Homo sapiens: one gene and its partners. The protein of the gene in region 3 interacts with the protein of the main gene of each other region in a pairwise test. Each region holds a gene or a part of one and is shown on either strand. Other genes may lie near its edges. The genes, in order: KIRREL2, STX6, PSMA3 and PATL1.

What was found.
Region 1: the proteins of PSMA3 (region 3) and KIRREL2 interact in binary tests that used the Homo sapiens proteins (3 or more experiments, as listed by UniProt).
Region 2: the proteins of PSMA3 (region 3) and STX6 interact in binary tests that used the Homo sapiens proteins (3 or more experiments, as listed by UniProt).
Region 4: the proteins of PSMA3 (region 3) and PATL1 interact in binary tests that used the Homo sapiens proteins (3 or more experiments, as listed by UniProt).

The regions. Positions count from the first base shown.
Region 1 is NC_000019.10:35,852,947-35,859,937, reverse strand, and holds the start of KIRREL2 (kin of IRRE-like protein 2 isoform c precursor), read right to left. Parts: upstream 3,028-6,991; 5' UTR 2,819-3,027; coding exon 2,758-2,818; intron 2,594-2,757; coding exon 2,444-2,593; intron 1,531-2,443; coding exon 1,381-1,530; intron 1,235-1,380; coding exon 1,074-1,234; intron 458-1,073; coding exon 307-457; intron 1-306. UniProt on the Homo sapiens protein: May regulate basal insulin secretion.
Region 2 is NC_000001.11:180,998,871-181,005,897, forward strand, and holds part of STX6 (syntaxin-6), read right to left. Parts: intron 6,594-7,027; coding exon 6,424-6,593; intron 3,831-6,423; coding exon 3,736-3,830; intron 1-3,735. UniProt on the Homo sapiens protein: SNARE promoting movement of transport vesicles to target membranes. Targets endosomes to the trans-Golgi network, and may therefore function in retrograde trafficking.
Region 3 is NC_000014.9:58,240,695-58,247,842, forward strand, and holds the start of PSMA3 (proteasome subunit alpha type-3), read left to right. Parts: upstream 1-4,148; 5' UTR 4,149-4,226; coding exon 4,227-4,247; intron 4,248-7,055; coding exon 7,056-7,138; intron 7,139-7,148. UniProt on the Homo sapiens protein: Component of the 20S core proteasome complex involved in the proteolytic degradation of most intracellular proteins. This complex plays numerous essential roles within the cell by associating with different regulatory particles.
Region 4 is NC_000011.10:59,645,012-59,652,038, forward strand, and holds part of PATL1 (protein PAT1 homolog 1), read right to left. Parts: intron 6,631-7,027; coding exon 6,533-6,630; intron 5,803-6,532; coding exon 5,743-5,802; intron 4,600-5,742; coding exon 4,451-4,599; intron 2,903-4,450; coding exon 2,743-2,902; intron 1-2,742. UniProt on the Homo sapiens protein: RNA-binding protein involved in deadenylation-dependent decapping of mRNAs, leading to the degradation of mRNAs. Acts as a scaffold protein that connects deadenylation and decapping machinery.

The DNA of each region.
Region 1 (6,991 bases), on a different chromosome or scaffold from region 3:
AGGTAGCTGGAATTACAAGTGTGTGCTACCACGCCCGGCAAATTTTTGTATTTTTAGTAGAGACGGGGTTTCGACATGTTAGCCAGACTGGTCTCGAACTCCTGATCTTAGATGATCCGCCTGCCTCGACCTCCCAAAGTTCTGTGAGTACAGGCGTGAGCTACCATACCCAGCCCTCTCCTGCTATCTTAGATCCAGGAGTCCAGGCTCCAGTTTCCTCATTCCCCAAGGGCCACAGTCCCCTCCTTCCTCATACCCAGGAGTCAGGGCCCCACACCCCTCTTTCCCAGGGCCAGCTGCACTCACACTGCAGGCTCAGTGTGATAGCTGTGTCTCTTCCTGTGGGCAGGGCCTGGCTCCGGGCCCGGCAGACAAAGGTGGCTCCATCATCATGGCTGAAAGGGGTCAGGGTTAAGGTGCTCTCCACTGACCCAGGGGTCCCTTCCTTCAGCAGGGTCTGGAGGGAAGGATAAGAATAATAATGCCATCTACCCATCAGGGGTGTCCAATCTTTTGGCTTTCCTGGGCCACATTGGAAGAAGAATTGTCTTAGGCCACACATACTAACACTAATGATAGCTGATGAGCTAAAAAATTACAAAAAAGTCTCATAATGTTTTAAGAAAGTTTATGAATTTGTGGTGGGCCACATTCAAAGCCATCCTGGGCTGCATGCAGCCCATGGGCCGCAGGTTGGACAAGCTTGCCTTACTTATATAGTGCTCACTATGTATTGGTCACTCTTCTGGGCATTTATAGGTATTTATTTATTTAATTCTCACAATACCCTATGACATGCATGCTACTATTATCCTGATTGTATAGATAAGGCAACTGAGGCACAGAGAGGTTAACTAACTTACTCAAGATCAATCAACTAGCAAGTGGCTGAGACATAATTTGAACCCAGGTAGTCTGGCCCTAGAATCTTTACCCTGCATCATATTTCAAGAGTCCAAACCCATGAACCTCTGCCCTCCCATGTCTTCTTCTCTTCTGGATGAGCCTGTGGTCAGAGTGTAACCCAAGTTTCCCTCAATGGGCAAAGGCTAGCACAGGAATTTGGACCTGACCTGATGGAAGGTGGCTCCATCCAACAGGACCCCATCTCGGAACCACAGCAATTCAGGGGTAGGGCGGGCATCCCCACGGCTCCGACATGTCAGGTTCGCAGGAACTCCAGCAACCAGAGACACAGAGGGGCCGCCCAGCACCTGGGGGGCTTCTGGGGGGACTGCAAGGTGGATTTGGGGTCAGAGATGGATCCTGATCTTCTCAGCTCCAATTGACCATGCCCCTGGGCTCCCTGGGCTCTGCTACTCACAGCTAGTACGGGCTGCCCTCTTGGGCTCCCAGGGGACAAGTGGGCGAGGTCCTTACCCAGCACGTGCAGTTGGGCTGGTCTGGAGCGGAGGCCTGCTTGTGTAGCCTGACATTCATATGATGCTTCATCCTCTAGCTCCACGGGCCTAATGTGGAGGTCATGCTGGCCATTGGCTGCATTCCCTGATATCCAGTACCGGGACCACCCTGGAGTCAGGGAGAAGGCAGTCAGCACACCATGGTTCTGAAATCCTGGCCTCAGGCCTCCATCCCCAGACATCCTCCACCAGAAAACTGGCCCACACATTTGGTGGTAAGACACTATTAAAAAGTGTGTACTGGGCCCAGAGAGACTCTAACTCCCTCCCAACCCAGAGTCACTGCAAACTTAGGGGTAATAAAGTCAGGAAGGAAAGCAAGAAAATGATTGCCATAAAAATTAGGTTAGATACTACTTCTGGAGTGAGGGGGAGGGGGCTATGATAGGGGAAAGGAACACGGGGTCTTCTGGGGAGCTAGCAATGGACTTGGGTATTGGCTGTGTGTGTCTATTTTATTTGGTAAATCTTCCATTTATATTTACTGTACTTTTTTGCATTTATGTTCTCTTTTTTTTTTTTTTTTGAGACAGGGTCTCACCATTGCCTGAAGTGCAGTGGCTTGATCATGGCTCACTGCAGCCTTGAACTCCTAGGCTCAAGCAATCCTACCACCTAAGCCTCCTGAGTAACTGGGACTATAGATGCACACCACCATACCCGGCTAATTTGTTTAAAATATATATATACATTTGTGTAGAGATAAGGTCTTGTTATGTTGCCCAGGCTGGTCTCAAACTCCTGGTTTCAAGCGATCCTCTGGCCTCAACCTCCCAAAGCGTTGGGATTACAGGCGTGAGCCACTGCACCTGGCCTATGTACTATTTTGCAATAACATAATAATTCCCAAACTCCGTGGGTCACCCCCAAAGAAGCAGCTCAAAAATCAGGACTCCTAAATGTTTACCCGAGCCCATCAATTTCCCAAACTTGAAAATGTCAAAATAGAAACTGCAGGTACAGCCGAGCCCAGCAACTCTCCCCCTAGCCAGCCCGTCCCAGCGTGGAGAGAACACTCTTACCTGGTAGGTCCCTTTGGCCCCCTAGGGCCAGCCCACTCTTAGTCCACTGAACTAGCCCCCAGTAGGCGCCCAGAGCACACGGCAGCCGGGCTTCCTCCCCCAGCAGCACCACCAGGTCCTCTGGCTGTTGCAGGAAATGGGGCGACGGGCCTAGGAGAGTTCGGGGCAGCAGGGCTGAGCTTAGCACCTTCAGGGGCCTCCTCATTCAGGACCCAGGAGTCCCAGCCCCCAGCTCCCTTCTCGCTAGTGAAGAGGCAGCCCGCAAGCAACTCCCCACCCCCACCCCATATTCCTCCGCTCCCCTCGTGCGGTACCTGCTCTCCCTCTGAAGCAGAAGAGGAGGACGAGGAGGGCGGGGACCCGCATCCTGAGCATTCGTCCCCCAAGGTTCACGAGATTTGCCGTCGCACTGGCCTTCCCGTCAACTTCTTCCTCTCAAGCACGCCTCCTGTCACCCTGGCCCGGAGCCCCCTTCACGCTCGACTCTTCGCCCAGCCTAGTCTCTGGCCTGGAGTCCTCCAAGTCTGCTCATCCGCAGCCTCTGACGCTCTGAAACGCCTGCCAGTTCCGCGGCCTGGGTCTCTGGGAGACCCCAAGAGGGCCCGATCCCGCTCGCCCCGCCCGGGTCCGCCCCCCGGGAGCTCCGCCCTCTTCCCGTTGAGAAACTCCCGCGGCTGAGACGCGGATGAATGGGGGACGCAGGGCGGGATCCCCCGGCGGGTGGGCGCCCCCAGCTCAATTGGGGTCTGGGAGCCGGAACACCTGGGTTCGAGGAGGGAGGGGGTCCCGGCTGGGTTGGACACCTGCGCCCTGCCGGGGTTGAGGGGCAGGCAAGGGGTGAGGAGGAGGGAAGGGAGAGAGTGGAAGAAACTTGCTCAGCCCAGGTCCTAGAGGGACTGCGCTCAGTGGAAACTGAGCTATAAATGGGAGCTCCTGGGGCCTCGCCAGTTTCCGCGCCCTGGGGGATGCGGGGTCCGGGGCTCCCCCGGGCCTGCGTGTCGGGAAGAGGGCACACCGATACCTGGGGGACAGTTGGGACCCCTACCTCGACTCCCCCAGCCTCAAAACCCCTCCTCAAAATATCCCTCTGTTCCCTTGTTATTGCTGCAAACTACAGCACGTCCTAAGACCCAGGAATCCAGGCCCTCGGCCCCTCCTTTCCCAGGACCCCGCAGTCCCAGCCCAACCCCTCTCCCCACTCGGCCGGCCGGGCCCCTCGGCCTGGTTGCCCGGCGACGGCTGGGAGGCGGCGGTGCCGGGCCGGGGCAGGCAGGGAGGCTGGGAACCGCGCAGCTTGTCCTGACGGCTCCATGCAGCCCAGCTGGGGCGTTCCCACGCTGCGCAGCTGGCCGAGCAGGTGGGAGGGACCCCGAGCAGCCTGAAGGAGGGCTGGGGGGCTGGGACCCTGATCTGACATTCCTGGACCTGTAAGAACTGGAGGGTCCACATTCAGATTCTCCACTGTTCTTAGGCTCAGACTCCGTGTCCCTAAATGGGGGAGTGGGGTTGGGAGTGGGGGTTGGACTTACAGGGTTATAAGGGACTGGTGGTTCAGGCCTTTGCTGGCTGAGACGCTGATGGCCTGATCTCCCGGTTCCTTGAGAGGCTGGAGACTCAAGGTGCACTCAAGTGCATGGTGCACTTGGAAGAGGGTGACAGGGGTCAGAATATCTGGTCTTAAGTCTTAAGAGTCGGTGGATCTATCTGCCAATCTCTCCCCACCCCCACACAGGCCCAGGAGGATTTGGAAATCAGACCGTGAACATCTGTCCTAAGTCCTGTGTGTATGTGTGTGTGTGTGTGTGTGTGTGTGTGTGTGTGTGTGTGTGTGTGTGTGTATGGGGAGGTGCGGGGGTGGGTAGTGTGGCCAGGAGGATCAGAGGCCCAAATTCCCGAGTCCTTGGAGAGAAGGGACTGAGACCCCAGGGTCTGAGAGGGGAGGGATCTGGGGGCCTACACTCCCGGCTTCTGTGTGGCTTATCTAGTGCCTGGATTTTGAAATAGGATGGACATGGGGCTGGAACTCCTGAGTCTTAGGGAGGAACTCAAGTCATGGGGCTGTTTTTCCAGGCACTTGACGCCGCTTCCCCTTCCTGGCTCTCTGGGGCTACGGACATGGAAAGATGGAGAGCCCAAGGTCCCAGGAGCATGCAGAGAAGGAAAACAGCCAAGGTGGAGGGTGGAAGGTTTGTGCTTATTAAAGGCCCCAGCAAGGGACAGCTCCACGCTCTGGCACCTAGGGACACCATCTGGCGAGGGCCCCCAGGACAGAGCCACTCCCCCAGCTCGGCATCCAGCCCATTTCCCAGGGGGTGTAGAGAGCAGTTGGGAGAGGGGAGGTGGGAGGAGGGCAAGGAGTCAAGCATGTGAGGGAAGATGGAAGTCCAGCATCGAGGATGAAGCTGGGGGCTGAGGCCAGATGCCTCATCTTGTTCCTGGGAACGATATTGGCGGGGGTCTTGGGGAGGTAGGGAGAAAACTAGCATTTCCAATTCCCGCAGGAGATAAGCAGGCAGAAGAAGCTTATCCCAGGCAAGTGTATGTGCACGCGGGGAGGGCAGGCCCACCAGCATATGGTTATAAAATCCAGGGATGTGATGAGCAGAGCCACTCGGAGATGGAGAGACACATAAGAGAAAGAGGCGTGGTCAGAGTGTGGCTGAGAACAAATATTTATGGAGCTCCTGGTGTGTGTGAGACAGACTGTGGGGTGAGGGGAGCGACAGAGGTGAGAACAGAGACAGAGAAACAGAATAACAGAGACATATAGAGATGGAGAGACACAGTGAAATAAAGATTGACTGAGATTTAACAACTTAATATAGAGAGCGAGAGAGTCTCAAACAGATGGAGAAAGATAGAAAGATAAATCAGCTGGGCACAATGACTCACGCCTGCAATCCCAGCACTTTGGGAGGCCGAGTCAGGCTGATCACCTGAGGTCAGGAGTTCGAGACCAGCCTGATCAACATGGAGAAACCCCGTCTTTACTAAAAATACAAAAAATTAGCCAGGCGTGGTGGCGCATGCCTGTAATCCCAGCTACTAGGGAGGCTGAGGCAGGAGAATCGCCTGAACCCGGGAGGCAGAGGTTGCAGTGAGCCGAGATCACACTATTACACTCCAGTCTGGGCAACAAGAGTGAAACTCCATCTCAAAAAAAGAAAAAAGAGAAAAAAGAAAAAAAAGAAAGATAAATCAAGGGCCAGGTGCGGTGGCTCATGCCTGTAATCCTAGTACTTTGGGAGGCCGAGATGGGAGGATTGCTTGAGCCCAGGAGTTCCAGACAAGCCTGGGCAATATAGCAAGACTCTGTCTCTGCAAAAACATTTAAAAAAAATTAGCCAAGTGGCGGGGTGCAGCGGCTCCCACCTGTAATCCCAGCACTTTGGGGGGCCAAGGCAGGTGGGTTACCTGAGGTCAGGAGTTCGAGACCTGCCTGGCCAACATGGCGAAACCCCGTCTCTACTAAAAATACAAAAATTAGCTGGGTGTGGTGGTCAATGCCTGTATTCCCAGCTACTCAGGAGGCTGAGGCAGGAGAATCGCTTGGACCTGGGAGGCGGAGGTTACAGTGAGCCAACATCGCACCATTGCACTCCAGCCTGGGTGACAGAGCAAGACTCCCTCTCAAAAAAAAAAAAAAAAAAAAAAAAATAGCCAGAGTGGTGATGCGGGCCTGTAGTCCCAGCTACTCAGGAGGCTGAGGCAGAAAGAACACTTGAGCCTAGGAGGTTTGAGGCTTCAATGAGCCATGATCACACCACTGCACTCCAGCCTGGGCAATAGAGAAAGACCCTGTCTCTACAAACAAATTTTAAAAAATTAGCTGGAGTGGTGGTGTGCACCTGTAGTCCCAGCTATTCAGGAGGCTGAGGCAGGAGGATCACCTGAGCCCAGGAAGTTGAGGCTGCAATGAACCAAGATCATGCCACTGCCCTCCAGCCTGGGCAACAGAGCAAGATTCCATCTCAAAAGAAAGAAAGATAAATCAAGATAGATAGAGGGAGGGAGAGAGAGAGACATGGAGAAGGAAAGAAGAGATGGGAGAGAGGGCAAGAAAAAGAGGGAGAAGAAAGCTCATGCAGTCCTTGCCAAAGGGCGCCCACTTTGGGCTCACACTGCACCCACACTGGGGGCCGGTGGAATTGGACTCTGCCTTTTACTCCCGCCCACACCCTGTGCACTCCCACGTAAGACACTGTCACACACACGCTCTCCACATGCTTATTACAGATCGCAGTTCACTCTAACCTTCCCCACTCTCACACCCACGTACACACATGCATATCTTCCCTCTCTCCCACACTCTCCCAGCCTGTCACACTCACTCTTGCATCCTCCCCAGCAGAGATCCCTGACATCATTTAGGCACTGATGTCTACTAAAAAAGGAAGGGAGGCCAGGTGCGGTGGCTCATGTCTGTAATCCCAGCATTTTGGGAGGCTGAGGCAGATGGATCACCTGAGGTCAGGAGTTCGAGACCAGCGTGGCCAACATGATGAAACCCCGTCTCTAGTAAAAATACAAAAATTAGCCAGGCATGGT
Region 2 (7,027 bases), on a different chromosome or scaffold from region 3:
GTCAAGCAACAAGTCCCAATAAAATATGGTTCATCTGCCAAAGGAACAACAAATGTCCTGGTTATTTATGCTTCTGTTCCCATTTCACACTGTCTTCCAAGCTGAATGAATGAGACATCATAAACCCCAGTGCTTCCCACTCATAATTCTTACATTTCAAGGTCATCTGTGCTCACACTGGATACTTCACCCTTTTTGATTAACCAAAGCCATTTCCATCTTGACTTACAATTGACTGTAAACAATTCTTACATTGGAGCAGGTTCGGTTTTTTCATGGAGAGGGTAATAGTTCTAACTTTTAAAGTCAGAGAATGTTAGTGAGGATTATTTCATAGATAAAACTGAGATCCAGGGAGGTTGAATGACTTACCATGGTTAAGATTTATTAAGGTCACAGCTTAGCCTAGAACTCAGGTTCCCTTACCCCTTATATTCACCATTATTCTGCCATATACTGCAAAACCTCTTGATCCTAAAGTAAAACCAAAGTCACTTCTAGGATATATTTCTAAAACACAAAAATTTCACATGTGGAATCTTTGATGTATAGGTGACTCCACAAGAGTAAAAATGATTACCTCAAAAATATGAAAGCTATTTACACAAAAATGTGAGTATTTTGGTTCTTCACTAAAAACTGCCAGCAAAACTGGATTTGTACAGACTTAAAAGATGCTTGGAAAAACATACACAAAACTCTAAACAAGGAAAGCTTACTAAAGGCATAACCAATGGACATTAATCAAGAAGAAACAGGCGATTTACTTCTTCAGGTTGAAGCAAATAAAGAAAAAAAAAACCACAAAATGCATAGAGTATCACTGACTCCCCTGCCTACAAAAGAGAAAGCATAAGTAGAATACACTGTTTGAAAGATAAAGTCAATCAAAATTTTGGAGCAATATTAAATGAAAGCCCACTAGTAATAGTAACAGAAGAACTAACATAAATTTGTACAAATTCCTAATTTGAACTTCATTTCATCTCATTTTCCAAATCTGCTAACCCTCTGCTCCCTCTCTATCGAGCTCTTCCACCCAGAACCCAGAAATCTCTACATACAAACACTGTTTAGCTAAATGTGGTAATGTGGAATTATACAAGGTATATTTTATTTTTAATCGAGTTAGCACCATTGCTATTTCCTCCTCTTCTATAGGACTTTCAACTAGAATTTATTACAATCAGATCAGCAAAAGCTCAGTTAGGTACTGTTAGCCTACCACTGGTAAATACTAACAGCTTCCCCCAAAGGGGTCATAAATTTAAACAAGAATGATTTAAAACCCTAAAATATTCAGGTGGATCACATAGTTGAGTATGGTTTAGATCTCAACTCTAAAAGGACAGTAAGATTTTGAAGTACTGACTTGATTTGGAATACCTCTCATTACTCTGTTCTCACATTGCTATAAAGAACTGCCCGAGACTGGGTAATTTATAAGAGAAAGAGGTTTAATTGACTCACAGTTCAGCATGGCTGGGGAAGCCTCAGGAAACTTACAATCATGGCAGAAGGAGAAGCAAGGCAACTTCTTCACAAGGCAGCAGGGAAGAGTGACAGAGCAAAGTGGGAAGAGCCCCTTATAAAACCATCAGCTATCATGAGACTCACTCACTATCATGAGAACAGCATGTGGGAAACTGCCCCCATGATTCAATTACCTCCACCTGGTCTCTCCTTTGACACATGGGGATTATGGGGATTACAATTCAAGATGAGATTTTGGGTGGGGAAACAGCTAAATCATATCAACCTCTTTCTAAGAATGTACTTTAAAAAGCTTTTCAGATATTAGAAAATGAACTTTGGATTCTTCTTTCCATTATACCAATGAACTTAATTTTTAATATACGAACCTCTAAATTTCAATTTGCAAACTTCCTAAGTCTACCTTGCAGAAATAAATATAATGATTAAGGTTAAGGACATATGCTTCACTGCAAGGCCCCACTTAAATATTAACGTCTATAGGAGTATCCTTCAAAAAACCTACTACTACAAAAAAAAAAAAAAAAAAGCTTATACAAAATAATTGGGGATTTACTTATCTTACAAAAAATATGTCACCTAACAACAAGGCTTCCTCATCAGAACAGTATTTTGAACTGGCTAGAAATTAAGAATGTCCAATCCAAACACTCACTGTGGATGGGGCATCTGAGGTCCAGAAAGGTTTCTCCCTCATTAAAATGTGGGTTTATCTATAAACAATTTACGTATATGTATATAGAAAGGCAACTAATGAATAAAACAAGTAACAAGAATATATAAAGTTCAGTGATAATCTACCATTTGAAATAATTTCAAAAGGAAATCACATGATATAAAGACTTTGGCAAACACAAACTAAGGTTCCTGCCTAAGATGACTCTTAAAAAGCCGTATGTTAGCACTGGTATGATCCCAAGTCTTTTTATTCAAGGAAGCTGCTTTCTAGTACATATGTTAAAGACAGCTGGTTCTCTTACATCTAGTTATGCTAATCAAATGGCTTAGCCATATAGTTTCAAAATATGAAACATTTTAATGACACAAGATTGTACTTAATATTTTTTCTCAGATTCTTTAATAATGGGTATTATTCTAAATAACTTAGAACTAAAGATTTGTTCACTTGGATCAATTTTTTACACTCTGATAGATGCTTGTTTGCTCTGGATAACTCTGGAACGGCTGTCAAGTAGTTACATATGGAAATGTCAGTATCTTGGGTTGCAAGAGTTCCAGAAGCAATTCAGATGGCGGAAGAGGCCGCTATCCAAACCCACTAAGAGTCACTCTTCAACAATGCGAAGTGATTACCAATCAATCAAAAAACCAAATGGTTTCTACAATAGCAATTGTTTTGTTCGTCAAGAAATAGAGTACACTAAGAAATAAAAAGTGAGAAAGATAACTAGCTTGAAGAAACTAGAGGTATGGACAAGGGTCTAATCATTCAGGATGACACCATTTGAATGTACCCTGCCCAAAGCCAGCAGATTACTGTCTCATTTTTGCTCTCGGAAATAAGCCTGACAGGCTGGGCATGGTGGCTCACGCCAGTAATCCCAGTACTTTGAGAGGCTGAGGCAGGCAAACTACTTGAGTTCAGGAGTTCAAGACCAGCCTGAGCAACATGGTGAACCCTGTCTCTACAAAAAATTAGCCTGGTGTGGTGGTGCACGCCTGTAGTCCCAGCTATTTGGGAGGCAGAGGTTGTAGTCAGCCAAGATCATGCCACTACATTTCAGCCTGGTCAACACAGTGAGACCTTGTGTCAAAAAAAGAAAGATTAAAAACAGATTTCTTTTTCTTCAATCACGGAAATTTTTTTTTTTTTTTAAGGTACAGTGACGTGATCATAGCTCTCAGCCTCAACCTGATCCTCCCACCTCAGCCTCCCATCTTGGTCTTCCATGTAGTTGAGACAACAGGTGTGCACCACCATGCCCAGCTAATTTTTATATTTTTTTTTTGTAGAGACAGGGTTTCATCATGTTGCCCGGACTGGTTTCAAACCCCTGGGCTCAAGTGATCCACCCACCTCCACCTCCCAAAGTGCTGAGATTACAGGCATGAGCCACCATGCGCAGCCAATCAGAGAAATTATATATGGGGAAGCTCACATTTAATTCATATTTAAAAAGTGGTTTCAGAGGTGACCTATTAGTTTACAATTAAGGGAAAGAGCTCTAAGAAGTCTGGCTATTTCTTATACAGATAACACAATAAGATCATATTCCTTACCCTGACAACTTGCCGAGTACTTGTAATGAAGGCTTTTCTTATACTCAATTCAGTTGCATCAAGGTTAAATTTTCTAGGATTTGCTTCAACTATGCGTAGGTCAAAAAGTCAAGGTAAAACAATTTCATCATCAAAGCCTGACAACATCCTGTTAACTCACTGAATCTCTCACATGCAAACAAATAAAATCTGGCTCAAACTTTCTGAAAACACAGTCAGCTGGACACCAATCATTCTCAGACTTCCTCTGCCCACAGCCACAGGAGGGAGGATCCCTTTGCTCCAAGACAGAGATGATCTGTCTGGTTAGGAAGCATAGCCCCTGCTGATGAGCTTCACTGCAAACACTTAGGGCTATCTGACCACAGGTGAGCTGGGCTCTTCCTGTTTGCCAACACTTGTGTCTATCCTTTTTTGACTCCTGATCACCTTTACTAAGACAGCTTTTGCAAGCCTTTTTCTCCTGCCATTCCAAACCACTTCCCATTATGCCAAGATGCTAACCCTACTTCTTAATCTAGAGAGATCGGGCCTTCTTCAGAGAAGCTGCCCTCATTCCCTTACCCTCTAGCCTGGTCCGACGCACCATGTCAGACACTTGCATAGCTCTCTATACTTCTCGTTCATAGTCTGCAGGTATCTATTTGTGTTATTACTTGATTACCATCTGTCCCCCATCCCTATCCACTCAAAGTTCTGTGAGGGCTGGTATAGTGTTTATTAATCTAATCTCTGTAACCAACAAAATGCCTGGCACATAGTATACTCAATAAACACTTGCTGGTTGAATGATGAGTATCTATTAAAACTTTTGTTTTTTTAATCTCACATTTTCTCTATCTCCCCTAACTTTTTTTCCTTCCCTCCTTTCTCAAGGGAAGAATTATCTCCCTGTAACTGTGCTTTTGATCCTGCCCCCTCACATATTTGCCACTAATTTTAGAGAACATACTTGCCTTTTAATAATGTAAAAGGTACCAGGGTCATCATGAATAACAAAAATTATTTACTCCATGTATCAACTGCATACGAACCTGTGCTAACTATAAGGTGATCCTGACAGAAGCTGGTTTCCTTATGTTTTATCTCACTTAGGGAAAAAACAAAACAGAACTCAGAACATGCAAGTGGCATATCTTCCATCTAAAGTTTTGGTTAAGTGGGATTTCCAGTTGGAAAAAAAGGCTATATAATGAAGTTTTTACAGTTCTCCAGTGCATGAGTCAGATCAGTGGACTTACTTCACATCAATACCATGAATTAGCAGAGCAGATCTGCTTTTACTAAATGCAGTTTCATGGAACAAGACATCTCTTCAATGGACGGTAGCACTGTAACATCACTTCTTAAACATGAAGACAGTCTACAAAAAGATTTTTTGATCTCTAATTACCGAAGTGTAACACTGGCCTGTATGGACCTCTATATGATAATGACTGCTAACACTATTACATAAGCTGTGTGCCAGGTGCCATTCTAAACTCTTTACCTGTATAATCCCAATAATCCTATGAGCTAGGTACTCTTGTTATCCTAACTTTCCACTAAAGAGGAAACGGAAGCACAGGAGGTTAAGTGATGAGCCCAAGTCACATGGTAACTGGTTGTGATACTGTAATAAATGCAAATTCGGTCTCTGCCCCCTCATTTCTGGCACACAGCTCCTTGATCCCTTGGAATCTCCAGATGAGTATCTTTTGTATGTTAATGGGATAATTGATGGCTGGGGGTTTCTAGATAGCCTCAGGACGAGGGGCTGGTCCCCAGAGAAACCAACCATGTGATTAGACAGTTGAAGCTTTCAGCCCCCTGCTTAACCCCACCCCAGGGGAAAGGGGCTGAAGGCTGAGCTGATCACCAATGGCCAACTGATGTGATCAATCATGCCTGCGAAATGAATCCTCCACAAACACCAAAAGGACAGAGTTCAGGAAGCTTCCAGATAGGTGAACATGTGGAGGTTCCTGGAGGCACCTGAAGAGGGCCTGGAAGTGCTGCACCTTTTCTCCCATACCTTGCATGCATCTCTTCCATCTGGTCATTCATCTGTATCCTTTGTAATATCCTTTACAACAAATGGATAAACCTAAGGAAACTGTTTCCCGGAGTTCTGTGAGCTGCTCTTGCAAATTAAATTAATTCGATCTATGGAGGGGGTCGTGGGAACTCCAATTTATACGTGGTCAGTTGGAAGCGCTGGTCACAACCTAGGGCTTGCAACTGGCATCTGAAGTGGGGGCAGTCTTGTGGGACTGAGCTCTTAACCTGTGGACCTGATGCTATCTCCAAGTAGACAGTGTCAGAAATATCATACTGACTTGAGTGTGAGGGTAGAGACTTAAAAAAAAAAGAAAAAAAGGGTTTTTTTTTTTTCCCTTTACATTGGTGGAGGCAGGACTTGAACACCAGAAATCTGACTCCAGGGTCCACAGTCATAATCATTACACTATGCTGCCTTTATATATATATATACATTTATAGTACAGGATTTGTCACACACTGTATAAGAATTTGGCTACTGTACCTTAAGTTACTGGGCAAATACTTTAAACATGTCATGGTACAAGTAAGAGCAACAAACATTAATCGATTATAAAATGTTTCATCTACATACTGGAAACAACTGGAGAAAAACTTGTCCATTTGTCTATTTATCCCGAATGGCACAGACACCACAGAAAAGGATATTGATGGTTTCATCAAGGTCCTCTAGATCCCACTCTATGCTCCGGAGGTTATTTCTCAGCTCGTTGGTGGTCCAGTCGATTTCTTCCCTTGTTGCTGTGGAGGGGTCCTGGAGGAGCTCTGTCCATCTCTGAAACAATCCCTGGGCAGTGTTGACTGCTTTCTGTACCTCTCTGTAATCAAGATGAGGCAAAGGAGAGAAATCACAGACAACATTCCATGGTCAAGTTACTGCATGATTTAGGTTAACATTTATGATCATACACCATCCTCAGCAACCACCATTCCCACAGAAGGCTCTTCACAGACAAATATCAAAGTTCAAAACTTTGATACACAGTCTGAGTATTATGTTCTCAGCTGATGCTTGGAATACAATAGCCATTATTTAAGCAGCTACAATATCAAGTTTGTTGGGGAAGGACAAATTTAATATTTTTCTCTGAACAGACTATACGTAAAAGTATAATGAAGCAATCCTACAAATTAACTAAAGGGCAATGAGCATTCCCACATGCTTCCACTTGGTGTGACAGTATTAATAATTTATACTCAGATGATAAGTCCTAATATGGCCTTTCTTTTCTTGGTGTGGGAGGAATGAGAA
Region 3 (7,148 bases):
CTAGATAAGAAATTCTGTCCGGGCGCGGGATGCCTGTAATCCCAACACTTTGGGAGGCCAAGGCAGGTGGATCACGAGGTCAGGAGTTCGAGACCAGCCTGGCCAAAATAGTGACCCCCCCCCACCCCCACCCCCCCGTCCCCAACTACCGTCTCTACTAAAAATACAAAAACTTAGCCGATCATGGTGGCCGGCACCTGTAATCCCAGCTACTCGGGAGGCTGAGGCAGAAGAGTCGCTTGAACCCGGGAGGCGGAGGTTGCAGTGAGCCAATATCACGCCATTGTACTACAGCCTGGGCGACAGTGCGAGACTCCATATCAAAAAAAAAAAAAAAAAAAGAAAAAGAAATTCTTCTAATTTCTGTGATAATGGAGAGGGGTGTGGTGTTTATACTACTACTTAGCAGTGCAAGTTAAAGACCAATTTGTAAACCTGAAAATAACAAAGAATTCTTAGGATAGTATCCCCAAAGCACAGTATTTGGAAGCTAGAAACATTGGGCATCACATTTCCTGAGGTATTCAATTTAAAAATAACATATGTCATAAAATAGTATACATTTAGAGTTGTCTTGCTCTGTCGCCCAGGCTGGAGTGCAGTGGCATGAGGCTCACTACAACCTCCGCCTCCCGGGTTCAAGCAATTCTCCTGCCTCAGCCTCCCAAGTAGCTGGGACTACAGGCACCCGCCATCATGTCTGGCTAATTTTTGTAGAGACGGGATTCACCATGTTGGCCAGGCTGGTCTTGAACTCCTGACCTCAGATGATCCACCCGCCTAGGACTCCCAAAGGACTGGGATTACAGACATGGGCCACCACGCCTGGCCTTTTTTTCTTTTTTCTTTTGAGAGGGAGTCTCGCTGGGCTGGAGTGCAGTGGCGTGATCTCAGCTCACGGCAACCTCTGCCTCCCGGGTTCAAGCAATTCTCCTGCCTCAGCCTCAGCCTCAGCCTCCGGAGTAGCTGGGACTACAGGCATGCAACACCACGCCCAGCTAATTTTTGTATTTTTAGTAGAGACAGGGTTTCACCATGTTGGTCAGGCTGGTCTCAAACTCCTGACATCAGGTGATCCGCCTGCCTTGGCCTCCCAAAGTGCTGGGATTATAGGCGTGAGCCACCGCGCCCGGCCGAAAGAACCCCCAAATTCTTAATTATTAATAAATATTGAGTGCACTAGGCACTCAAATAGTGTTTATCACACACAAGTAATGATGTTAATTAAAAGATTAACTGATACCTAAACAAGTTTTGAGTACTTACGGTTTACCTCCAAGGCCAAACCTTCTGCAACTATTAACCTTTAGCTTTCTTCAACACTTTCTTGGACTATCTTGGTCTAAATCCGAACTCCCCAGGAAAGAACTGCAACTAGAGGCCAGGTGCAGTGGCTCACGCCTGTAATCCCAGCACTTTGGAAGGCCAAGGAGGGTGAATCACCTGAGGTCAGGAGTGTGAGATCAGCCTGGCCAACATGGTGAAACTCGGTCTCTACTAAAAATACAAAAACTAGCCTGGCATGGTGGTGCACACCTGTAATCCCAGCTACGCGGGCAGTTGAGGCAGAAGAATCGCTTGAACCCCGGGGGTCAGAGGTTGCAGTGAGCAGAGATCATGCCACTGCACTCCAGCCTGGGTGACAGAGCAAGATTCAGTCTCAAAAAAAAAAAAAAAAAACCACTTACAACTAGAATGTTTTAACGAGGGTTAGGTAAATTAAGTGGCTAGTCTTCCAAGTCATTCAAGTCCTTTTATCTATCGGTTTGTTCAAGAATAAAAACATCAATTGTAATGCTTCATTAGCAGGAAAAAGCAAAAGTAACTGAAATTCCTTTTTCCCCCTTACTTTCTATACCCAATTCTGCAAGCCCTATGTCTTAGCCCATATTCTGCTGCTATAACAGAATACCACAGACTAGGTAATTCATAAACAAGAAAAGTTTATTTGGCTCATGGTTTTAGAAGTCCAAGAGCATGGCACTGACATCTGGCAAGGGCATTGTGCTGTGTTATCCCATGACAGAGGATCAGAAGAGCAAGCGAATATGTGAGACAGAGAAAGCTGAAATCCAGTGAAACTCACCCCTTTATTAGGAACCCACTTCCAAGATAACTAACCCATTCTGAAAATGTCATTCATCCATAGTGCCCTCATGACCTAATCACCTCTTAAAGGCCCCACATCGCAATACCATTACATTGGCAATTAAATTTCAACACGTGTTTTGAAGGGGACATTCAAACCATAGCTCCCTACACATCTGAAATCCATCTACATATTTCCACCTCCACTGCCACCACTTTAGTCCAAATCACTCTCCATTACTGCTAGCTCACAAAAGTGCAATAACTTTCCAACTAGTATCCCTGCCTCTCTTCTTTCCCTTAGCTATCATTCTTCACACAGAAACAAGAGGTCATTTAATGATTTAAATCAAATCATATAATTCTCTTGCTTTAAAAACTCCTGATAACCTCACAGTAGAAAACCAATAATAAATGTGAAAAGAATGATGGAATTAGAAAATCACCATTTGGCAACCATTGTAATAATCAATTCAAATAAGAATCATCAGATATTAGAATTAATGAGTGAAATGTTGAGGCGTAAACAGGATGTGTACATATTCTCAAAGTATTTCCTCACAAGATACTAATTACAAAGGGAAAAATGAAACATTATCAGGGATAAATCTTCAGCAAGTGATCAAAGTTAACATTACCAGCAATAAAACAACTAACATCATGTCCCTTCTAATGTAATGCTCTGACATGAATGAATACAAGGTCATTTCTGTAGTATTCCTGCCATAAATGCATCACTTGAATCAAATAACAAAAAAATCAAACCTAAATTAAGGAATATTCTACAAAATAAATGGTTTGTATTCTTCAAAAGTGTTCATGCCATGAAAACTGAAGAAATACTAAGCAACTATTTTCCAGACTAAAGCAGATTGGAAACATGACAACTGAATGCAAGGTGTGATCTTGGATTTTCTTTTGCTATGAAGGACATTATTGGGCCATTTACCAAAAAAAAAAAAAAAATGCATAAAGTTGATAGATCATAGTATTGGTAATTTTCTGATTTTCACAATAATACTGTGTCTCTGTGAAATAATGTTCCTGTGTTGGGGGAAAATACACACTGACGTATTAATATTTAGGAGTAAAAAAAATGCTGATGCCCTATTTACAATCGGATTAAAATTCAAACCACTTCAAGATTTGGTCTCCTGTGCACTTGTTCTCTTCCTGTCATTCTTCCCCACTTAATCATTATGAGAGGTCACTCTGACGTGACAGTTCCCAGCGCAAGCCAAGTTTTTTACTGTTCCCTAAACCACTGTCTTTTGTTACCCTATTTTAGTTTAAATATCACTCACTCAGAAAGTCATTCCCTGAGCACACTGCCTAAAGTTAGTACCTCCATTGTCTATTAAAGCACTCTTTCTTCTTACTATTTTGCTTATTTATTGTTACCTATTTATTCCCACTGAATGGAAATTACATTAGAAATGGGGGTATGCTCTGTTCACGGCTTTTTCTTGAACACGTGGAATATACTAGCGCTCAAAAAATATCTTTAATCAGACTTATCTTTAACTCTTACCAAAAAGCGTTATACTCATAGAAAGAGCACTAATACTTCCGTAAAATTCTAAGCTGAATTCAAAGACGATACCCTTTAAGTGAAACTTCACGAGAGCCTGAGCACAAGGAGGTGAAGTGGATGCCATCAAGATTCTGGGTCAGGGTCGGGACGCGGAGGAAGACAGGTTACTTCGCGCCTACTGCTTTTTCTACTTTTTGTGAGAGTATACCAGCATCTCTCCCTTTGGCTTAAAGAAAGAATAAAGTGAGGAGAGAATAATAATATAAAAGATAAATAATAATTCCAAGGAAAGGAATAGAGCAGCTTCTCAGATACCACGACGCCAAGCGGCTCAAAGTACGCGAACCGAAGGAGGAGCCTTTGCTTTCCCCAACCCCGCCTCCATTGCTTCTGCACATGCGCGCCGCCAGCCTCTCGCGGCCCGCTTTTTTCCCACAATACTCCTCGTCCTGGGGGCCGGAGCCGCGGAACGAGCCACAGAGAAAAAGGTTATTGGTTGGCAGTTCAGCCAATGAGCGGGCCTGTTACTAGTTTGCGGCATCCTGTGGTATAGGGGAAGCGCTCCGGGCCTGGAATCCCTACGCGTCCCTTTGGGTTTAGCACGATGAGCTCAATCGGCACTGGGGTGAGTTCGCTGTCTGTCGGTGTAATAGTTTAACCTAAGGATTGGGGTTGAAGGGAACTCGGACAGACCACATGGGGTTCGCGGACCCGGGGTGCTCTGAGACCGCCTTCGGCTGGGTGGGCCATTTGCAGCTGTTTGGAGACCGGTCGTCTTTATCCCCTATATGCTAGGCCTGCGTCTCAGGTGACCGTGACTCCTGAAGCTTTTCAGCGCAGGTGTAGCCGGCTTGGCGTCGCCGCAGTGAGGTTTGGAGCCGCTTTGGATTGCTGAGTCACTTTCTTCAGCCACTTAGGGAAACCGAAAGTGGAAACTCGTGGGGCTTGAAATAGTGTGTTCTCTTGAGAACCACCGAGGCAGTGAGATTTGGGATTCCGGGGTCTGGAGATCGTGCTTTTTGTGGACTGCGTTTGCAGTTCCTAGGGTGCTGCTGATTCACAGGCCTTCTCTGTCTTTAAGTGTGCAGATCATTGACCGCTCAGTTTAAGAGTCACTGGAAATCCTGTCGGAACAGAACTAATAAAAATGGTCTGAAAAACAATCTGATGAATCCTTCAGTTTTTCCTTTCTCGTTTTTCCTATACAAATTACCTAACAGCGCTTGTAGGCATTTATTCCGTAAACGTTTAAATGGTTACTTAGGAACTTAACAGCTTCAGACTTTTCATAGACTGTTGAGGATTTTGCAGTGGGACTTGTTAACTTGTTTGGCTTTCCTTTGTTAAACGTATTGCATATGTGCAGTCAGTTTACTCCTTTTATGTACTTCTCTATATAGAAAATACAGTTTCTAAAAGATTTATTGGTTATTTGCACTAGAGTTATTGAATAATGAGTTTCTCAGTTCCTCAATTTCTACTTCTTAACAAGATTCTCATGCTCAGCCTTAAGTTCAAGTACCGGTGTTCTAAATTTGATAATAGGCAACTTATGTCTGGAATGGTTTAATCCATTCAGTTATGAATGCTAAAGTTCTGCCATACTTTTCTTGGATAAGTAAATGCTCAATATTAAATCTTGTAGCAAACTGACTTTGCAATTATATTAATATTACCTTGAATTAATAGTATTTCATTCTACAAACCTTTTAAAGAATACTTGATAATGTAACCATGTGGGATATTTTAGTAACAATGGTAGGGTTAATGATCTGGGTTTAACAGATCAGGAAACAGACTCAGAAAGTACCACTGCTGAAGGCTTTTCTTCTGTCTTCATTTCTCCCAAGAACTCCAGATACGAATATTTGTTTGTCTGCTTGACATGTCTGTTCACTTGATCGTTTAATAGTCATTTCGTACTGCATGTGAAAGTAGAGCTCTGGGTTTTCTCCTCACCTTGCCATTTTGCATCTACTACAGTCTTCAGCTCAGTGAATGGTCATATGAAAAAATCTGTTATTCATCTTTAATTCCTTTTTTTACTTTACTCCCAGAACCAACGCTTTAGCAAGTTTATTTTTTTATTTTTATTTTGTTTGAGACGGAGTCTTGCTCTGTTGCCAGGCTGGAGTGCAGTGGCACGATCTTGGCTCACTGCAACCTGTGCCTCCCAGGTTCAAGCAATTCTCCTGTCTCAGCCTCCCGAAGAGCTGGGACTACAGGTGCGCACCACCACGCCCAGCTAATTTTTGTATTTTTCGTAGAGATGAGGTTTCACCATGTTGGCCAGGATGGTCTCCATCTCTTGACCTTGTGATCAGCCCGCCTCACCCTCCCAAAGTGCTGGGATTACAGGCATGAGCCATCACGCCTGGCCTAGCAAGTTTATTTTTATTATTTTTATATTTTACTCTACTCTCAAAAAATATTCCCTTCTACCTCTTCTCTCGTCTAAGCTACTACCGCTATCTTTGGAACACCTTATCTTTGCTTCTGTTGTTCTCTCTACAGCTTATTTTCCGCATAAAGCCAGAATGATGTTTTTAAAAATATAGATGATACCACTCCCCCTGCTTAAATTTCTCATTGCATTTAGAATAAAATACAGAGTCCTTTTTCCATCCTGGAAGACACAACATAATCTGGCCCTCAGCTACCTCACTAACACAGTTTACTCTTCTTTCTGCTGCTTACAGTGCTTGGGACACAGTGACCTTATTTCTGTTTCTTGACTGTGCTAGCCTTATTTCTACCCTAAGATCTTTGTGCCAAATGTCAAGAAGACTTTTCCTTCATATCTTAAATGGCTAGCTCCTTGTCATTTAGGTTTGACTCAGCCTAAATATAACTGCCCAGAAGGCCTTCCCTGATGATGTAGTCTGTAGTAGTTCATTGCTTTACTCTTTTATTTTCATCTTAGTGCCTTTTCTGATTTACTGCTGTACCTCTAGCACCTAGATTCATGTCTGATGTGAAACTGAAGGACTTAATGAATGAGTATACCTTTGTATTCCGTATAGTAACATAATAGATACTCATTAACTGCTTGGTGAATGCCGAATGATTTGTTTGAAGTCTTTTAGTTTGTTAATGGCAGAGTTATCGTTACAAATTTAAATGTTCGAACTCCAGTGCTGGTTCTACTGCCCCATATTAATCTTTTTCAAAAATGAGTTTTGTAGTCTGGGTGAAAAGTGTTCTGACTTCACCTGGGACCTGTATCCATTACTCTTCAATAGCTGAAATCGAAGGTATATAGCTTTATCTTAGCTACTGTTGCTGCTCTGACAAGTTTCCCTTTCCTCTCTTGAAAGCAAGGTCTTTGTTGGGATATAACAGGTTCCTGATGTTTCAGCCATTTAGAGGGGAAGAAACTGTATGGTCATTACTGCCAAAGATACAAGCTTACTGTTGCCCTTTTCTCCTTAAGTATGACCTGTCAGCCTCTACATTCTCTCCTGACGGAAGAGTTTTTCAAGTTGAATATGCTATGAAGGCTGTGGAAAATAGTAGGTAAGAAACA
Region 4 (7,027 bases), on a different chromosome or scaffold from region 3:
GTTCCCCATCCACTTTTTTTTTTTTTTTTAATCCATTCAACCCTGAGTGGATACAGCACATGTTTCAGAGAGCACAGGGTTGGGGGTAAGGTCACAGATCAACAGGATCCCAAGGCAGAAGAATTTTTCTTAGTACAGAACAAAATGAAAAGTCTCCCATGTCTACCTCTTTCTACACAGACACGGCAACCATCCGATTTCTCAATCTTTTCCCCACCTTTCCCCCCTTTCTATTCCACAAAACCGCCATTGTCATCATGGCCCGTTCTCAATGAGCTGTTGGGTACACCTCCCAGACGGGGTGGTGGCAGGGCAGAGGGGCTCCTCACTTCCCAGTAGGGGCGGCCAGGCAGAGGTGCCCCTCACTTCCCCCCCCATCCACTTTTTACCTACTGCTTTTAGCAGCCAGTAATGAGTGCTGTCTAGATTGACTGCTTCTCTGTTGAGGCTTGCAAAAACAGTTATTTTCTAATTTTATCATTTCTTTTGTATTTATTAGCTAAAATTCTTCTACAAAGAACTTTGTATTATCAACTCTCTGATTACCATGACATTTGGTTGTAATGGAAAGGTAGGATAAATGCTTTTCCTTTATTTACCAATTTTCTGAATAGTGGGTTGATGGCCTAGTAGTCTCCAAAGGTGATCAATATATGTTTAACACTATTACCTCATTAAATATATTTGATATATTTCAATCTACTGCTGTAACTGTTCTTTCTGATGAAAATTATTCCACTTTTGGCCAGTATGAGTCTCTTGAAGTTGGTTTGTGTATCCTTTAGACAGGACTCTAGTAATCTATTAACTTCCTTGCTTTCTGGCACTAGATATTCCAGGATATCTTGTACATTTCATGATTCAGACCTAGAACCAGCTATTACTTCAAGAAAATGGTATTTAGAGATGTGGTTTATTACTCCTTAAAACATACAGGTAAAAATCAGCCTAGGTATTTAGCCAAGCTTTCCTCCTAGCAGGTAAGCTCCATGAAAGCAGGCATTTTTGCATTCTTATCTTTTAGCACCTAGAACTAGGTGTTGTATTTCTAGGAGGTAAAATAATGCCTGGCACATAGAAGTATTCAGCAAATTATCTCCCAAACTTGTTTCCACACAAGAGCTCTGGTGGGATTATGAGTGCCCATTACACTGCTTACAAATTATATGCTCTAAGGTAGCTGTTACTTTTTTAGTCTGGTCTTCTATTTTCTAGGATAAACCTCAAATACTGGAACTTTTCCCTAACTCATTTTTCATTTGTGGAATTTTTTTTTTTTTTTTTTTGAGTAGCTGGGACCACAGGCATATACTACTGTGTCCAGCTCATTTTTTTCTTTTTTTTCTCTATTTTTAGTAGGGACAGTTTTTCACCATGTTGCCCAGGATGGTCTTGAACTCTTGGCCTCAAGCGATCCACTTGCCTCAGCCTCCCAAAGTGTTGGGATTATAGGCGTAAGCCACTGTGCCCAGCCAAATCTTTTAAATATATACTTGTCCCAACCCACTTCACTTTTTTCAATGAGACCTAAACTTCTCATTCATTTCTTCTGCAGATGCTAACATTTCAAGGATCTATGAAAGAATAATTTCCCTTTCATAGCATACCATTTATAAGGTATTCTGTGTTTTCTGGGGACTCATTACTTAGATCGTTATTACTCAACTTGTAGTCTATAACAGGTTCACTCCCATATATTCTACTATTCTGAATCTTGTACTAATATTCATCCTTTGTCCCACTTTTATCAGTTTCTTATTTTGAACTTCTTAAGACTATTCTAAATTTTGCTCATCTTTCAGGTGTGCTATGACAAGGATAAGGAGAGAAAAACTCTAACCAAGAATTAACTTGTACATGTGATAACCATGTTAAAATTCCAGCCTAGTCTAGATCATGATAAAAATTATTTAAAGGGCTGGCTCGGGCTGGACACAGTAGCTCAAGCCTGTAATCCCAGCACTTTGGGAGGCCAAGGCAAGAGGACTGCACGAGTCTAGGAGTTTGAGACCAGCCTGGGCAATGTGGCAAAACCCTGTCTCTACAAAAGGTAAAAAAAAAATTAGCCGAGCATGGTGTCGCATGCCTGTAGTCCCAGCTACTCAGGAGGCTGAGGTGGCAGAATCACCTGAGCCTGGGATGTGGAGGCTGCAGTGAGCCGAGATCACACCATTGCCCTACTGCCTGTGTGACAGAGCAAAACTCTGTCTCAAAAAAAAAAAAAAAAAAAAAACCAAAAGGGGACTAGCTCAGTTGCTGTGGGATACCATTTAACTAAGTCTACAGGCTAATGTTAAGCTACTGATAACAGAACAATGAATGATACTTCATATCTAGCAAAATAACCAAGACTATAAGTTTTCAAACTTCAGTGAACATCAGATTCAGCTGGAGACTAAGATACAAAAACCCTAATCCTTCTGTAAATTCTGATTCAGCAGTTTGGGGTGGAGTTGAATTATCTACGCAAGTAATTCTGATACAGACCACATCTTTACAACTATGTCAAGTAAGAGGGAATTGTTGTTTTTCTCATGTTTAGAAACATAGTCTGTTCCATCAAATATGGGATTAAAAATATAGGCCTGAAATACTAAAGGTTTTGTTTTAAATAATCAAATCACACAGCCAAAGATTAGACAAAAATACAAAAGGGAAGAGGAGAGGAAAATAAGTTTGCATTCTAGAAATCTTATCACTTATAAAGACTCAAAAGAAAGATGTCCCATCTTGCATAGTCACCTCATCTTGTGCATCCTTCTTGATAAGGAAAGGGAGGTTCCTGGCTGTTGTCATGAGAATGTCAGCTGCTTGCTCTGTGGAGAGGAAAGGAAGAATACGGGCAACCATTCTCTTCCCTTTTCGGATACACATGATCTGTACAAAGTGGTCATCACTAGGCCTGCAAGGAAGAAAAATGCCAGCTTAGGTCAGCAAGAACAATTAAGAAACCCTCATTTTTTTCCTCTTAGATGTTACTGAATGAATATACTGCATTCATTTTCATTCTCTAATAACCTGTACTATAAAACAGTAGGAATCACTTCTCCAAATCTCAACCAAATAAAAAGTAAATTTTCAGGTCTTACAAATGTAGAAAATAATCATTTCACAAATTATATGGTTAAAAAAAACTTGGCCAACTGTATGCACTAATTTCCTTAACTTTTTTTCTTTTTTTTTTTTTTTTTTGAGACGAAGTCCCGCTTTGTTACCCAGGCTGGAGTGCAGTGGCGCTATCTTGGTTCATTGCAGCCTCCACCTCCTGGGTTCAAGTGATTCTCCTGCCTCAGTCTCCTGAGCAGCCGGGATTATAGATGCCCGCCACCATGACCAGCTGATTTTTATATTTTTCTAGAGACAGGGTTTCACCATGTTGGCCAGGTTGGTCTCTGAACTCTTGACCTCAAGTGATCTGCCCACCTCAGCCTCCCAAAGTGCTTGGCCTCCTCTCTTAACTTTTAAGTAACCACACAAATACCATATGGTTAACAGCAACAGCTTAAAAAAAAAAAAAAGAAAAAAGAAAATAAAAACATTCGTCAACTCAGAGTTAATTAGTGTTACCATTTTAAACAACATTTTGCTTTGTATTATATATTTTTTCTTTCATAAAAAAATGGGCCCATATAATTCATATGGTTTTGTACCTTGACTTTTTTCACTCAACAACTTATTTCCATGTCAATAAATATATTTCAACTACATACATTTTAATGGCTGCATAACATCCAATCTATGGATAAACCATTTATTTAACCAGTTCCCTGTCAGCCTAACTCCAGACACGGTGTGTTGAAAACAAAGTGCTTATTCTTATGTTTGGTTTTGTGTATGTCCTGGCTTAGAAGGATAAGTAATTCTCTTGAACGGGTAAAAAGAAAGGGAGTTGTTAGAAGTTGTAGTTCTCTTGAATACATCGAATAAGTATTCAGGATTTACAGAACATTTAACATCAGCAAGATTCTTTTGCAGATAATGGGGTAGGTGAGGGATTCCCCATTGGAAGACTGAAGGGTTTCGATAGGATATAAATATTTTGTGGAAATCCCAGGAAGTATAAATGTTTGTACATCTGATCTTAGTAATAAAGGAAATATATAAAGATTACAAGGTTAAACATGCTAGTAATCATAAATCAGGTGCAATCTGTAAGCACAAAAACCCAATAACGTTACCCACTATATCTCTAGTGCCTAGCACTGTCCCCAGCAGATACTATGTATTTGTTGAATGAATAAATTCAGGATAAAGACTTTTTTTTTCTTTCCTCACTGGAAAAGATAATTCGTATTTTAAATGAAGTGGCATTTGAGTTAGGCTAAAAGGATAGATTCTGAGCTTACAGAGATGGTAGGGAAGTGTACCTAAAAGGCAAAAATGTATGAAATCCAGTTATGACAGAGGAAGGAGTCCAGTTAATGTTTTCCTCAAACTGCACGATGCTTACCTCTCTTGTCCAGGCAATTTCCCCCTTAAGTTGTCATACATGCTACAAATTTTGTGCTTTCTGTCATCCATTAGGGCAGGTCGCTCTTCTTCCAGACTTAGGAGATAACGTCTTTCATAGTCCTCCACATCAAGGAGTAAGCTGTAGGTCTAAGAAGGGAGACAAAAGCAGGCCACAGCATGCTAGGTCAGAACCACAGTATTAGTTAAACAATTTCACAGTTTAGGACTACTAGCTAAAGACAAACTCATTATAGAAAGACTGAGATTTTTTTTTTTTTAATGTAGAAAACCATATGAAATAACTTAAAAAATTCCTCAAACCACCATTCTTTGTCTCTCTCTGACTTCTATTCTAGCAGGCAAAGACAGTAAAATAGTCTAGACGCGGTGGCTCACGCCTGTAATCCCAGCACTTTGGGAGGCTGAGATGGGCGGATCACGTGAGGTTGGGAGTCCAAGACCAGCCTGAACAACATGGAGAAATCCCATCTCTACTAAAAATACAAAATTAGCCAGGCATAGTGGCACATGCCTATAATCCCAGCTACGCAGGTGGCTGAGGCAGGAGAATTACTTGAACCCGGTAGGCGGAGGTTGCAGTGAGCCAAGATCTCGCCATTGCACTCCAGCCTGGGGAACAAGAGTGAAACTCCATCTCAAAAGGAAAAAAAAAAAAAAAAAAAAGCAATCCAAAGAGAAAACTACTACTATCATCTCCATTTTTACAGATAAAGAAACTGAGGACAGCATAGAAAGGTTAAATAACTTGCCTTAAGTTACAGACTCAGAAATGGAAAAAGACATGATTTGCAGCTTGGTTCTAGAGTCCATACTTTCAACCACTATGGTGTATGGCCTTACAATGTGGTATTTACATTTTACAAATCAACTATTAATATCCATTATTTTCCTCAGCACCCAGAATAGTGCCCAGTAAATATCTGTGAACTAAATTAATCCACAGGTAGGACAATGTAATTTTCATTCCCATTTTATCAGGCTTAGAAAGGTGACTTGCCCAGACACTCAGCTGTTAACTGAATAAGCTTGGACAAAAACCCAATACACTTCCAACTTTAACTGCAGTGTTCTTTCCATGATGCCAATAGGTGAAACATACCATAATCCTTTCCAAAGTTATGTGGTACACAATAGTCACTTACCAGCAATATATTCATGAATTAAAACCAAAGAACATTGACTGATTGCTCACTGTTTCAGTTCTAGTATATACATACATTTGACAGTTCCGTATTTGAAACTAACTACAGCAACAAATTCTAAACTTACTTTCTCAATTATAACAAGGGTTTTTCTCCTCTTGTCTCGAACTTGTTTTTCTTTTGTCTCCTAAAAAAGAGAAGACTATTCAATGCAAATTCTTTATCTCTGTTAAAATAATTTACCAAGTGCGCATTTGTAGGTTCATTTGTGACAATACTTTGAGAAGATAATTGATTCTCTGAAAGTTAATAATCTAAAACAACCCTAGTATGAACAAAGGTCAAAGTTGACTGAATCAATCCACAAACTATTAAATTCCATTCACAGATAGGCAAAGGGCAACCTTAGTAGAGGATAAGGAAATCATATGAAATATGAAAATCTTTTTTTTTTCTTAAACGTTAATTTTAGGTTCAATGGTACACGTGCAGGTTATAGGGTACATGTGTTTGTTACATAGGTAAACTTATGTCATGGGGGTTGTACAAATTCTTTCATCACCCAGGTACTAAGCCTAGTGCCCCATAATTATTCTTTCTGATCCTCTTCCTGAAAATCTTAAAACACATAGAAAATGATAATTTTTTTAACATCAAACTGGAGTAAATACATGCTGTTTGCAGCCAGAGCTACCCAATCCAAAGACTCCTGCCACCCTAGTCCCTGCCTGGCTGCCTTAGAAATGAAGGTGTTAATACTGCAGCACATCTGTGGAAAACTAGAATGCATGACGAGGTGGGAGGCCCCGGGTTAGACTACAAACAACTCTACCATGCCTGATCTCATTCCATGGTGACCCCAAAAGAAGTGGTCACAAATCAGACGTTCTTAAACAGACAATTGTGTTGACACTTACATCATCCTCACTCCGAGATGTCACAACAGCATCAATCATTTTTCGGGGATTATTCACACTAGAAACGGTAAGCTTTCCCAAAGAGCCCTCAAATTGCACTGCAAAGACAAAAAAAAAAAAAATTCCAACAAAATAAAAAGTCAGCAATGCAGGCAGGCAGTGTTCAAAGAAGATTTTTACTTTCCTCTGTCCCTTACTCATAGTCTAATAACTTACTGCAAAACTCAATGTATCATTTAGGCCGGGTGTGGTAACTCACACCTGTTATCTCAGCACTTTGGGAGGCCGAGGGGGGTAGATCACTTGAGGCCAGGAGTCCGAGACCAGCCTGGCCAACATAGCGAAACCCCGTCTCTACTAAAAATACAAAAATTAGCTGGATGTGGTGGCACACGCCTGTAATCCCAGCTACTCAGGAGGGTGAGACATGAGAATCGCTTGAGCCCAGGAGGTGGAGGTTGCAGCGAGCTGAGATGGCACCAATGCACTCCAGCC